3 linked regions of the Homo sapiens genome follow. The protein of the gene in region 1 purifies or fractionates together with the protein of each later gene. This does not show direct contact. Each region holds a gene or a part of one and is shown in the gene's direction. Other genes may lie near its edges.

The links.
Region 2: the proteins of ERMAP (region 1) and USP34 purify together in Homo sapiens (affinity purification with mass spectrometry; 2 studies listed by BioGRID and IntAct, with this or other methods). This does not show direct contact.
Region 3: the proteins of ERMAP (region 1) and ELMO2 purify together in Homo sapiens (affinity purification with mass spectrometry; 2 studies listed by BioGRID and IntAct, with this or other methods). This does not show direct contact.

What each region holds. Positions count from the first base shown.
Region 1 is NC_000001.11:42,814,917-42,818,665, forward strand, and holds the start of ERMAP (erythroid membrane-associated protein precursor), read left to right. Parts: upstream 1-2,205; 5' UTR 2,206-2,337; exon of another isoform or gene 2,338-2,481; intron 2,482-2,617; exon of another isoform or gene 2,618-2,899; intron 2,900-3,749. Other genes in the region: SVBP (small vasohibin-binding protein), read right to left, coding at 1,515-1,628. UniProt on the Homo sapiens protein: Possible role as a cell-adhesion or receptor molecule of erythroid cells.
Region 2 is NC_000002.12:61,469,137-61,472,885, reverse strand, and holds the start of USP34 (ubiquitin carboxyl-terminal hydrolase 34), read left to right. Parts: upstream 1-1,798; 5' UTR 1,799-2,193; coding exon 2,194-2,236; intron 2,237-3,749. UniProt on the Homo sapiens protein: Ubiquitin hydrolase that can remove conjugated ubiquitin from AXIN1 and AXIN2, thereby acting as a regulator of Wnt signaling pathway.
Region 3 is NC_000020.11:46,385,944-46,389,692, reverse strand, and holds part of ELMO2 (engulfment and cell motility protein 2), read left to right. Parts: intron 1-472; coding exon 473-654; intron 655-1,902; exon of another isoform or gene 1,903-1,993; intron 1,994-2,255; coding exon 2,256-2,355; intron 2,356-3,417; coding exon 3,418-3,569; intron 3,570-3,749. UniProt on the Homo sapiens protein: Involved in cytoskeletal rearrangements required for phagocytosis of apoptotic cells and cell motility. Acts in association with DOCK1 and CRK. Was initially proposed to be required in complex with DOCK1 to activate Rac Rho small GTPases.

The sequences.
Region 1 (3,749 bases):
ACGTATGTTTATTATGGCACTATTCACAATAGCAAAGACTTGGAACCAACCCAAGTGTCCATCAATGATAGACTGGATTAAGAAAATGTGGCACATATACACCATGGAATACTATGCAGCCATAAAAAGGGATGAGTTCATGTCCTTTGTAGGGACATGGATGAAGCTGGAAACCATCATTCTCAGCAAACTATCGTAAGAACAAAAAACCAAACACCGCATGTTCTCACTCATAGGTGGGAACTGAACAATGAGAACACTTGGACACAGGAAGGGGAACATCACACACCAGGGCCTGTTGTGGGGTGGGGGGAGGGGGGAGGGAAAGCATTAGGAGATATACCTAATGTAAATGACGAGTTAATGGGTGCAGCACACCAACATGGCACATGTATACATATGTAACAAACCTGCATGTTGTGCACAGGTACCCTAGAACTTAAAGTATAATAATAAAAAATAAAAAATAAAAAGAGACTCCATCTCAAAAAAAAAAAGCAATGTGGCAATGTCTAGTAAAATTGAGAATGTACCCAGTAATTTTTCTAGTTAAATAACCTACAGAAATTCTAAGGCAGGTGCCAAAGGAGACACCTAAAAGCTTTTCACTACAGCAATGTTTGTAATAGCAAAAAATACTATAAATAATTTAAATGTGCATCTCTGTAAGAATGAATAAATATACTAAGTAAAATGGATGCATAAAATAGACTATTATAAAAATTAATGAGAATAAACTAAATTCTTATATTGGCATGAATAGTTCTAAAAAACAATGTAAGCAAAATGCAAAATAAAATGCAGGAATTTTATTAATGTAAAAATTTAAAATACTACTGTATATTGTTCAAGGATATCTATTAATATATTTGAATGTAAAAGTATAAAAAAAAGTAGTTGTCCATGGAGAAGTAAAAGGATGTAAGACAGGAAATGAACAAAGCAGACAGATAAACAAAACAAAGAGGGAAAAAGAGACCAGCAAGATTTTCCCTGACATTAAATACTAAAATAAAATACTTATGTCTGTATGTGGCTCAATATTGGCAGGGTAAAGTTTAAAGCTTTTTATTCTCAAGTTGATTGTAATCGTTGAGAGAACAAAGGAACACACTGGTGAGTTTAAAGCTTGGGCCTCTACCTGGCATGAGTAGCTGCTTTCCGCACCAAATCCAGAACATCTGTACTGGGGGTGTCTGACACTTGCGTGCTCTCTCTCATTCTGACCCCTTCTTTCCCCTTACATATCATTTTTTTTCCTTTCTTCCTTCCCTTGGGTCTCTTACCACAAAAGCTCCGCACCAGACTGGGGTTCTGACACTAACTTGGCATGTGATTCTGGGCTGCCACCTCACCATTCTGAACCTCAGTGTTGTCCCCTCTAAACCTGGGAGAACACCCATCCTGCCTGGAGGCAAGTATGGCTCGCTGTCAGTTCTCCTTTCTGCTGTTTCTCTATTCCAGCATCATCTCCAGCAGACTACAGGCATACAGAGCCTCCGCCTTAATCTCACCTCTGCTCTTTGTCTCTGCTTCAGCTCCTGCTGGGCTGATTTCTGTTTGGCCTTCTCAACTCTGCTGACAGATTCTTTAACTTTGGTTTTTTCTTTACGTGCAGGTGGATCCATGGCTTGACTTCTGGATATTTCTTAGGAGGCTCTGATCTGGGTGGTACAGAAAGAGGCAGATCTTCAAAACAAAACAAAACAAAAAATACCCTGCCAGTTACTCCTCTAATCCTTTAGCTCCGCCCCATCCTTTGCCAGGTGAGGCAGAGTGGTCTGGTGGCAAGGGCGCTGGATGTGGGGGAGTAGGAACCGAGTCCCAAGGCCACAACCTCGCTGGGTGTCCCTGGGCAAGTCTCCTCCCCACTTTGAGCCTTAGTTTTCTGTCTGCAAAATGGGTTAAGTGTTTTCCTGGCCTCCCTCCAGGAGCTGCTGTGTGCGGGTGAAATGCAAAGACCCCTGTGAAAGCGTTGCCCACTGTGCGGCGTGCGGCACCCAGCGCGGAACCGTCCTAATGGGACGCTGAGACCCAGAGGGCGCCCAGGGTTTTCCCACTGCGGCCGGCCTAACTCCGCCGCAGCAGCCGCTCCTGGGGCCAGGGGGCCGGGCCCCATAGCCAGCCGGGCCCGCCCCCCACCGCCCGGCCCCCCGACCCCGCCCCGGCCCGCCCGGCCCCAGGGGACGGCCCCCGCCTCCTGCCCTCTTCCCTCTCCTGGAGGAAAATGGCGGTCGCTGGAGCCGCCGACCAAGAGGCTTGGGAGTCTGTACCTTTCCCGACCGGGCCACTGGAAGTTGGAGCCTCCGCCGAGTCGCAGACAACGCCTCCGGGAGGGTAATCCTCGCCTTCCCCCGACCACTGGACCCAGCGCTGCCTGCCCACCGCCCCTCGTCCTGGGCGGGGCCGCGCGCCGGGGGGAGGGGCGCAGGGCCGAGCGCCAGGAGGCTTCCGCCCGCAGGAGCGGCCGCGCGTGCGCAGAGAGGATGGCTGGAAACCCGCGTAGAGGGCGGGGCGGGGCAAGCCGGTGCCGGGGCGGGGCAGGGGCGGAGCCACACCGGGGTGGGTGGTGGTTACGGCTAACCAAAGCTTTTTCCCGTTATATTTTCTGCAACAGCTACTAGGTTTTAGAGGGTGAGATCCGAATCCTGGAATTGGAATTGCTCAGAATTCGAATTCCGAGGCTCAATTTCTTAATTCGAAAAGTGGGGATTGATGATTGCCACCTTCTTCATTCATGAGTTTATTGGGAGGATCAAGTGAGATCCCGTTTGCCACAGTGCTTTGAAAAAGGAAATCTTGACAGAAGTACCAATAGCCAGTATAAATACAGAGAACATTCACGTTCAACTGATTACCGAGGAGATGTAAATTAAAATAGCTGGCTGTAATTTTCCAGGTATTACATTAGCAAGGATTGACAAAAATGATAATAGCTACCTTACATTTGGGCTTACTATATTCCAGGCACTGTTCTTACAGCTTCACATTTATTAACTAATTCCTCATAATAAGTGTGTATAATGTATACGTGTATATTATTATCCCCATTTACACATAAGGGAACAGAAGCATTGAAAAGTTAAGTGAGTTGTCCCGGGTCACACAGCTTCTAAGTGCTGGAGCAAATATTTCAGCCAGGATTCATAGGACAATGGCCTTATCCAAAGTAAAACCCTGTTTGGGTCCACTATTTGTTCCTCTATCAAACTGGCAAGAATTGAAACAACTGATAGATGCTAAGCAAGCAATGAACTCAGCCCAGATGGACACACGCTTCCAGTCAAACTGTAAATCGTTAACAGCCTTTCTGGAGGTCAGTTTAGTACTAGGTATCAAAAGCCTTAAAAGTGAGCACAATGCCCCAAAAAGACAAATACTGCATGTTTCCATTCATATGAAGTATCTAAAGCAATCAAAGTCTAAGAAACAGAAAGTAGAATGGTGACTGCCAGTGGCTAGGAGAGAGGGAAAAGAGGAATTGTTTAAAGGGTATAGAATTTTAGGTTTGTAAGGTGAAAAAGTTCTAGAGATCTACTGCACAATGTTTATTTTTTATTTATTTAATTTTTAAAAAATAGATGGGGTCTTGCTCTGTCACCCAGGCTGGAGTGCAGTGGTGTGATCATAACTCACTGTAACCTGGGCTCAAGCAATCCTCCCACCTCAGCCTCCAAAGTATCTGGGACTACAGGCACACACCATCATGCCTGGCTAATTTTTTAAAATTTTTTTGTAGAGATGGAGTC
Region 2 (3,749 bases), on another chromosome or scaffold:
CAGCCACCTTTTAAATTTTTGTAGACACAGGGCTCCCACTATGTTTCTCAGGATTGTTGCTTACCTTTTATCAGGAGGAACTCAATTATGTATGGCCAGCCCTAGAAAAGCCAGATCACCATGATGGTTGGTTTCAACTGCTACCTGAAAAAACGTGAGACCAGCACGTTGGCTCATACCTGTAATCCTAACATTTTGGGCCGGAGGATCAGTTGAGGCCAGGAGTTTGAGACCAGCCTGGGTAACATAGCAAGACCCTGTCCCTACTAAAAATAAAAAACAATTAGTTACGTGTGGTGGAGAGCGCCTGTAGCCCCAGCTACTAGGGAAGTGGGAGGATCCCTTGAGCCCATAAAGTGGAGGCTGTAGTGAACTGTGATCGCACCACTGCACTCTAACCTTGGCGACAGAGTGAGACTTTGTCTCAAAAAAAAAAAATTCAAATAAAAATAATTGGGGTTGTGTTGGCAGGGAAAAAAGGGATACGTGGGAATGTATGTTGAGTGGACAACGAATGTCTGCCTCAGGATCCAAAGTAAGTCTGCAAAAACCCAATTCTGTGAGAAAGACAAGGAAGAAGGGAAGATGATGGTAGAATAGAACTACAATCCTAAGGATCACCTGCTAGTGGGAAACAAAACGGGTTGGGCAGACTGTTTATAGTATCAACTTCAAGCAGCAGAAAGGCAAAGCATTTGGAACCAGGTGGTTCTGGCATGGAGAGATGGGCGTGCCATAACCTCCACAAAAGCTATCGAGAGAATGACTACAGAGCCTTGACAGACACTCTGGTTACCGTTCAGAGATTCTGTACACGATCTTTCGGACTTTGCAGTCACATGTCTATGTAAACACGTTGAACACAAAAATTAGCAAGCAAGGGGTAAGTGCCGGCGTGAGGAAAATTCCCTTACAAGCTTCAGCTGACTGCCCCCTTCACCTGTTCTTTATCTTAATATCCTTGTTATTCGCTCTCTGCTGAAGAAGATTTCTTGCTATTTCAGGTGGGGCTGATGGGCACATCGTGAGGGGCCCTCTTCCGTAAAAACGAGACGATGTCAGGCAAACACTCCTTACCCTGCCATTTCTAGTTACGTCAAGGATCTTACTGCTCCAGGACGGAGGACCTTCAAGGAACTGCAGGGTAGCGATAATCACCGATGCAGTTAAGCCGGGCCCTGGGCTGATTCACTCTCAGACCCCGGGGGGAGTGGCCCTTGCGCCCGAAAGAGGGCTACGGCGTAGACCCGGCCCGGCACCCAAGTTGACTCCTTGCTTCCCGTACCCCAAAAGCCTAAGCGCGGAAGAGGCCGGGGACACCAAAGAAACCCGCACCAACTCCCCGACCCAGGCCCTGGGGAAAAATGGCGAAGCCCAGGGGCGGGGGACAGGACGGAGCGAGTGACCTGGCGCTCCCCGGGCCTCAGAGCCCGTGGAGTGGGTCGTGGTGGGCGACGCCACGCAACCGCGACCCGTCCGTTGCCTCCGCCATCTTCTCCTACTCACCCGGACTCCCCCCGCGGCCGCGCTGGCTTCGCGTTTCCCTTCCGGCCGCTGACAGAGATCCGGGCTGGGCGGGGTGGGCGAGCGCGCGGAGGGGGTGGACCGAGGGCGGGGAGGCCGGACGGAAGAGGAAAGGGAGGGCGGCGAGCCGGCCACGGCGGGGTGTGGAGCGTGCGGCGTGTGTGCGGAGGGAGAGGTGGGGGGCGGAGGAGAGGCGAGAAAGGGAGGGAGGCGGAGGAATGAGAGCGCGAGGCGCCTCTCGTCCGCTCCTAAGCCCGGGCGGAAAGAGCCGAGCGCAGCCCGAGCGCTCTGTTAAAATGGCGGCGGCGTCGGCGGTGGCCGCGGCGTCTGGTCGGTGAAGTGACTCTGCTGCTTCTCTCCCCACCCGCCCCCTCCCCCCCTCTCCCCTCCCCCCGTCCTTCCCCCCCTTCCCCGCCGCCGGCGCCTCGGCGCCCCTCCGGCCTGCGCACCTCCCCTCGCTCCCCTCCTCTCCCCCTCCCGCTGCGGGGACCGCCGGCCCCCTCCCCCATTCTCTTGCTCCCCGCCCCGTCCCCGCCGCCGCCCGCCCTAGTCGCCTCCCCGCCCCGCCGGCCGGCCGGCCCCCTCCTCCGCCTCTCTCCCCTCCCCCCCGCCGGTCGGGATCAGTCAGTGTGATCCGAAGCGGGGGAGGGGGGGGGCGGCGGCCGAACGATGTGCGAGAACTGCGCAGACCTGGTGGAGGTGTTAAATGAAAGTAAGTAGCCGCGGTAGCGGCCTGTCGGGGTGCACGGTTTGGGGTCCTCGCGCAGCTCTCTGGCCTCCCCGGGCTGCCGCGGCCTGCGGGAGGCGACGGCCGGGCCGGGCGGCGTGCGGGCCTAGCGCCCCGGGAAGGTGCGCGGTGGCGCGGCCGCCGCGGCGCCTCGGGCCCAGCCCGGCCGGGTTACCTGGGCGCCCGAGAGGCGGCCGCCGCGGAGCTCCGGCTCGGCCTGGCCCGGGCGCTCTGGGCTCTCGGAAAGTTTCCTCATTACAGGTGTCAATTAATGAAGGCAGTAATGAACCCCTCGCCGCCTTCGCCTCCTTCGCCCTGCCGGGAAGGTGCGGGGAGGTGGGGTCGGAGGACGAGGCTTTCCTCCGCAGTCCAAATCCTCCGGCCGCCCTCTTTGATTTCCAGCGTGCTGCCGAGGCCTCTCTTACCTGCTAATTTTCATTAAACTCCCGGGAGCAGGGTGGTGGTTTTTCCCTCCCTTGCGGGTTTGTGGGTGTCTTAAACACTTCAGCCAGACCTTAAATAGCTGAAAACGAACTGTGATAGTGATGATTGGAACCTTCATACCTATTTTTAAAATAAATTTGTTAATGATGTTTCTTAGTGTAGCATTCACCGCTTTAATGGTACATTCTGTTAAGCAGAGCACTGTACTACACATACCATCCCGGGATAGTTATGGCCTATCTCTCTTGGAAGGAAAGGCCTTTTACCTGGTACTTTACTTTTTATTATTAAAAAGGGTACGTTGATCTTTTCTGGCCTTTTTATTTTATTCTCGACCCTTGCAAGATGGTATTTCAGCTTATAGAAGATATATTGCAAATCAACTACTTCTGGGCGTAAAGGCCTAGTTGGCAGAGGTGAATTAGATGAAGGGATCAATTTACAAAAAGTTGATTGTTGAAAAAATGCTCACTTATGAACAGTTTATGTGGGTTTTGGATTTGTATTCTGTTTGTGATATTTCCACAGACTTTCAGACTATCTAATTTTGTAATACAATTCGCTAAAACAGTTGATTTATAAAATGTACCATGGTATTTGTGTTTGACTGTCACTTTAATGACCAAAGACAATAATAAAAGTGGAAGGGTTCTAACTTAATTTCAACTCCGTATTTACTTCCTGATAGGTGGAATAGGCTTTTGCACATATTCCAACTAGAGGTTCCAGTATTTGTGTCACCCTAAATTATCCTAGAATTTTAAGATTATTTGTGTGTATTTTGAGATACTTTTATTTCTGGCGCAGGCGGTTTACGATATGATAAACTTAAATCCTCAATACTTACTGTGTTTTATATCTCACATACAAGTCGTGTGATTATGATTGTTACGCTCAACTTGGAAAGTTAATCGTTTTGCAATGTAATATGAGGAACAAGTACTTAATTTTGTTGGTGATTTTAAATATCTTTTTTTTTTCTTGAGACAGAGTTTTGCTCTTGTTGCCCAAGCTGGAGGGCAATGGCATGATCTCGGCTCACTGCAAACTCTGC
Region 3 (3,749 bases), on another chromosome or scaffold:
AAATTTTTTGGGAGTCAGGGTGTCACTCTGTTGGCCAGGCTGGTGTCTAACTCCTGGCTTCAAGCAATCCTGCCTTGGCCTTTCAAAGCCTTGGGATTACATGCATGAGCCACGCACCCAGCAAGACAGCTTAAATAGAAAACCTTCCTCTATTAAACCAGTATCTGTTTCTCTGTGACTTACCATCGTTAGTGGGCCTCCCAGATGCCTCCAGTATTCCCTTGGTAGGAATTTTTTAAATCCATAGGCCAAAGCGGTACAGAAAAGATGCAGATAACTACAGATTGGTTTTGGCATACTAATAACTCCCTGATTGATTCCACAAACATTTATTTAGCAACTCCTAAGCTGTGTGAAAAAACTAGTTCTGCCTCAGGTTTGGATGTCCACAGAAGGGCCTCTGTGAGCTATCCACAGAGTAGTAACCTGCTCCAAGGAGCAGATGGCACATATCTTGTCCCTGGCCTCCTAGTCCCGGGCTGCACGCCAGCTGATGGAGAGGACCCAGTCATCCAACATGGAGACCCGGCTGGATGCCATGAAGGAGCTGGCCAAGCTCTCTGCCGACGTGACTTTCGCTACTGAGTTCATCAACATGGATGGCATCATTGTGCTGACAAGGCTCGTGGAAAGTGGAACCAAGCTCTTGTCCCAGTGAGTATGACTAAGGTCTCGTTCCAAGGACTTCGACGATTTACTACATCCCACAGGGCATCCTAGTCTCATTTCCCTTGAGTCAAATAAGGAGTTTATTGAATACCACCTGTGTGCAGAGCAGTGTGCCAAGCACTAGAGTCCATACCAAGATATATAATTCCATATTGTGATTCTAAATCGTGTAGTCTATTTGGGCTCTCACAAATTAAATAACAGTACAAAACAGTACTGTGCCAAGTGAGCAGTGAAAATAGGGGCTAGAGAAGTCAGGAGGAGAGCAGTCACGTCGTGACAGACCTGTTAATTGCTGGAAATGTTTGGTTTGATGAGGGTTAGTGAGCAGATGGTCCAGTATCTCCCAGGTGTCTGTTTGTAATCATCCCCTGCTCCTCCCTCTTCAGTCACCTCCCAGCCCATACACACACACACACACACACACACACGCCTTCCTTTGTGTTTACCACAGGTGTCAACCTACCCATTCACCATCTCCCTGCCACACTTTTGCACAGGGAGGAGGAGACCAGAACTTTGTGATACCCACAAGCATCTTCATCATACCCCAGAGTTCACATGCATGCGGTGGGCAGCTGTGCCTTGTGAGCAGCAGTCAGTAAACAGGTGCTTGGAGCCTAACCTGCCAAAGAGGGAGTCAGAAATCTTCTCAGCCCATAGATCAACTATTGAAATTGTTAGCCAAATCGAGTAACTAATCATAGATATTTGTTTTACATATTGGATCTTCCAGCTGTATTGAAGTCCTGAAGCCTTCAGCTGCCATCAGCACTGACATAGTTCTACAGTCTCCCAAGGGTACAGGGTTAGACTGGCCTTAGTTTCACTCTCTTCAGCCTGAGGATAATAATAGCTACCTTGCAGTATTATTGTGAGAAGTATTGTTAATGAGAATGTGTCTGAACATGCTTTGTAAATAGGAATATCATCTGTTAATTCTAGAGCACTGTACAGATGTATAAAGGATTAAATGTATAAGGAGAAGAGAAAAAAGAGAAAACATTTTAATCCTTATTCTCTACCAGCACTAGAATAAGAGCTTTGCATACATCATCATCTTGTCGTCTCCACAACCCTGTGAGGTTAACGCTGTGAGACTAACTTGATTTTACAGAGGAAGAAATTGAATTTTGAAAAGATAAAATTTGCTTGGTTAGTAAGGTGGACAGGAACTGAACCCATCTCTTGCACTCTACTGCCTCTTGGCCCAAAGGTTAACATGGCACTTACACTTCCTTAGGTTCTCCCAACAGGTGTTGGAGTTTGACAAAGGTCCAATGTCTTCTTTGGTCTTGGGAAATAGATAAGTGATTCTGTGTCCCTGGGATGAAGCATATGGAGAAGGAAGATCTAATTACCCAGCAACATTTTTTTTTTTTTTTTTTTTTGCAGCGATAGATACCTGGGCTGAATCTGCTCTACACTGGCTAGGTGTGCACACAGGCACTTACAGTTACAGTTGCATCGACTGATTTCCCATGGGGTGTTCACATTAAAATTCATCTTTTTTGTGGCTGCCCTCACACCTGTGTTTCCCGATCTGAATCTTTGTCTATTTTGTGTGTGTGTTGCACGTGTCTCAGCTACAGTGAGATGCTGGCATTCACCCTGACTGCCTTCCTAGAGCTCATGGACCATGGCATTGTCTCCTGGGACATGGTTTCAATCACCTTTATTAAGCAGGTGAGGCCTCCAACATTCTGTCTTTCTCTCCTCCCTCAGCTGCCAGTTCACAAGGCTTAAGGGGAGATACAGGCAATATCGCCATTCTGGTGAGATCAGCTTTATATTCCCTGGGGCCAGATTTTTCATCCTCAAGCTCTAGTCTTCTGTGGCTTCTGAAAGATTTGCATTTTGTTATATTCTCAGGGCCTGCACTGAGATGGAACTGGACCGTCAGAACTAAATATGATCAAAGTAGAATTAGATTGTCAGTGAGACTGGGGATAAAGCCAGCCAGTCAACCAGTACTAGCCCTGAGTCTTTTGACCGACTTCCTGAGCTCTCTCTTCTTTTTGTATATATATAAAAAAAATTTGCATTTCATTTGTAAATTTGCCTTCTATTTACAAATCTGCAAGGTAGCCTGTTTGGATTGTCAGACTAAGTTCAGTGGGTAGGAGAGGGTACTTCTGGTTTTACCCTCCTTTCTTTTACACAAAGGAGCAGTGTCAATTCAGAATACTGAACTAAAACCAATGAATAATATTGTATCTGCTGCCCTAGAACTTCAGCTATCATTGGCTTAGGACATTGGGACTCCCCGACACTGGACACAAGTGAAATGACCATGTGTCAAGGATATTATAATGGGGACTGAGAAGAAGGATTAGAGTAAAAGGCTTCAAGGTCCTTTCTACCTCTCAAAGTCTAAGTGTGTTTAGGGGGAGTGTGTGTCAGGGGAGGTACATGGAGATAAAATGAGATCCCAGTATCAGTAAAATCCTCTGCTTTTTTATACCCCACTTTCTCAAACTGGAACCCTTATTTTGATAAAAAGAATTAAGCTTTTAGATTTTGAGGAAACACAATTAAGTGGATACTATAATCTGAGATTAAGGTATCCATGCCAAGGGAATCCCTGGCACATTGGCCAGGGTAGCCGTAAACCAGATACCACTATCCACCTAGCAACAGCTGCCCAAATGTGAAGCAGAGAGAGCTTCAAGGGCTAGCATCAGATGCTAAGCTTCTATCTTTCTTGGGCCCTGAGCTTCTCAATTGATGTGCCATCTCTGGGTCTAGATTGCAGGGTATGTGAGCCAGCCCATGGTGGACGTGTCAATCCTTCAGAGGTCCCTGGCCATCCTGGAGAGCATGGTCTTGAACAGCCAGAGTCTGTACCAGAAGATAGCCGAGGAAATCACCGTGGGACAGCTCATCTCACACCTCCAGGTGTGAGTAAAAAACCCTACACCTCCCTCCCTTCACTTGTCTGTCCTCTTTTCTCCTCTTATTTTAAGTCTTCCAATCCTACTCTCCTTTGCTTATATTCCAAGCTGTTGGTTGGCTTCTTCATTCATCACCTCTTCCACACTCCTGCCAGAATTTCTCCCATCATTCAGACTTGATCATGT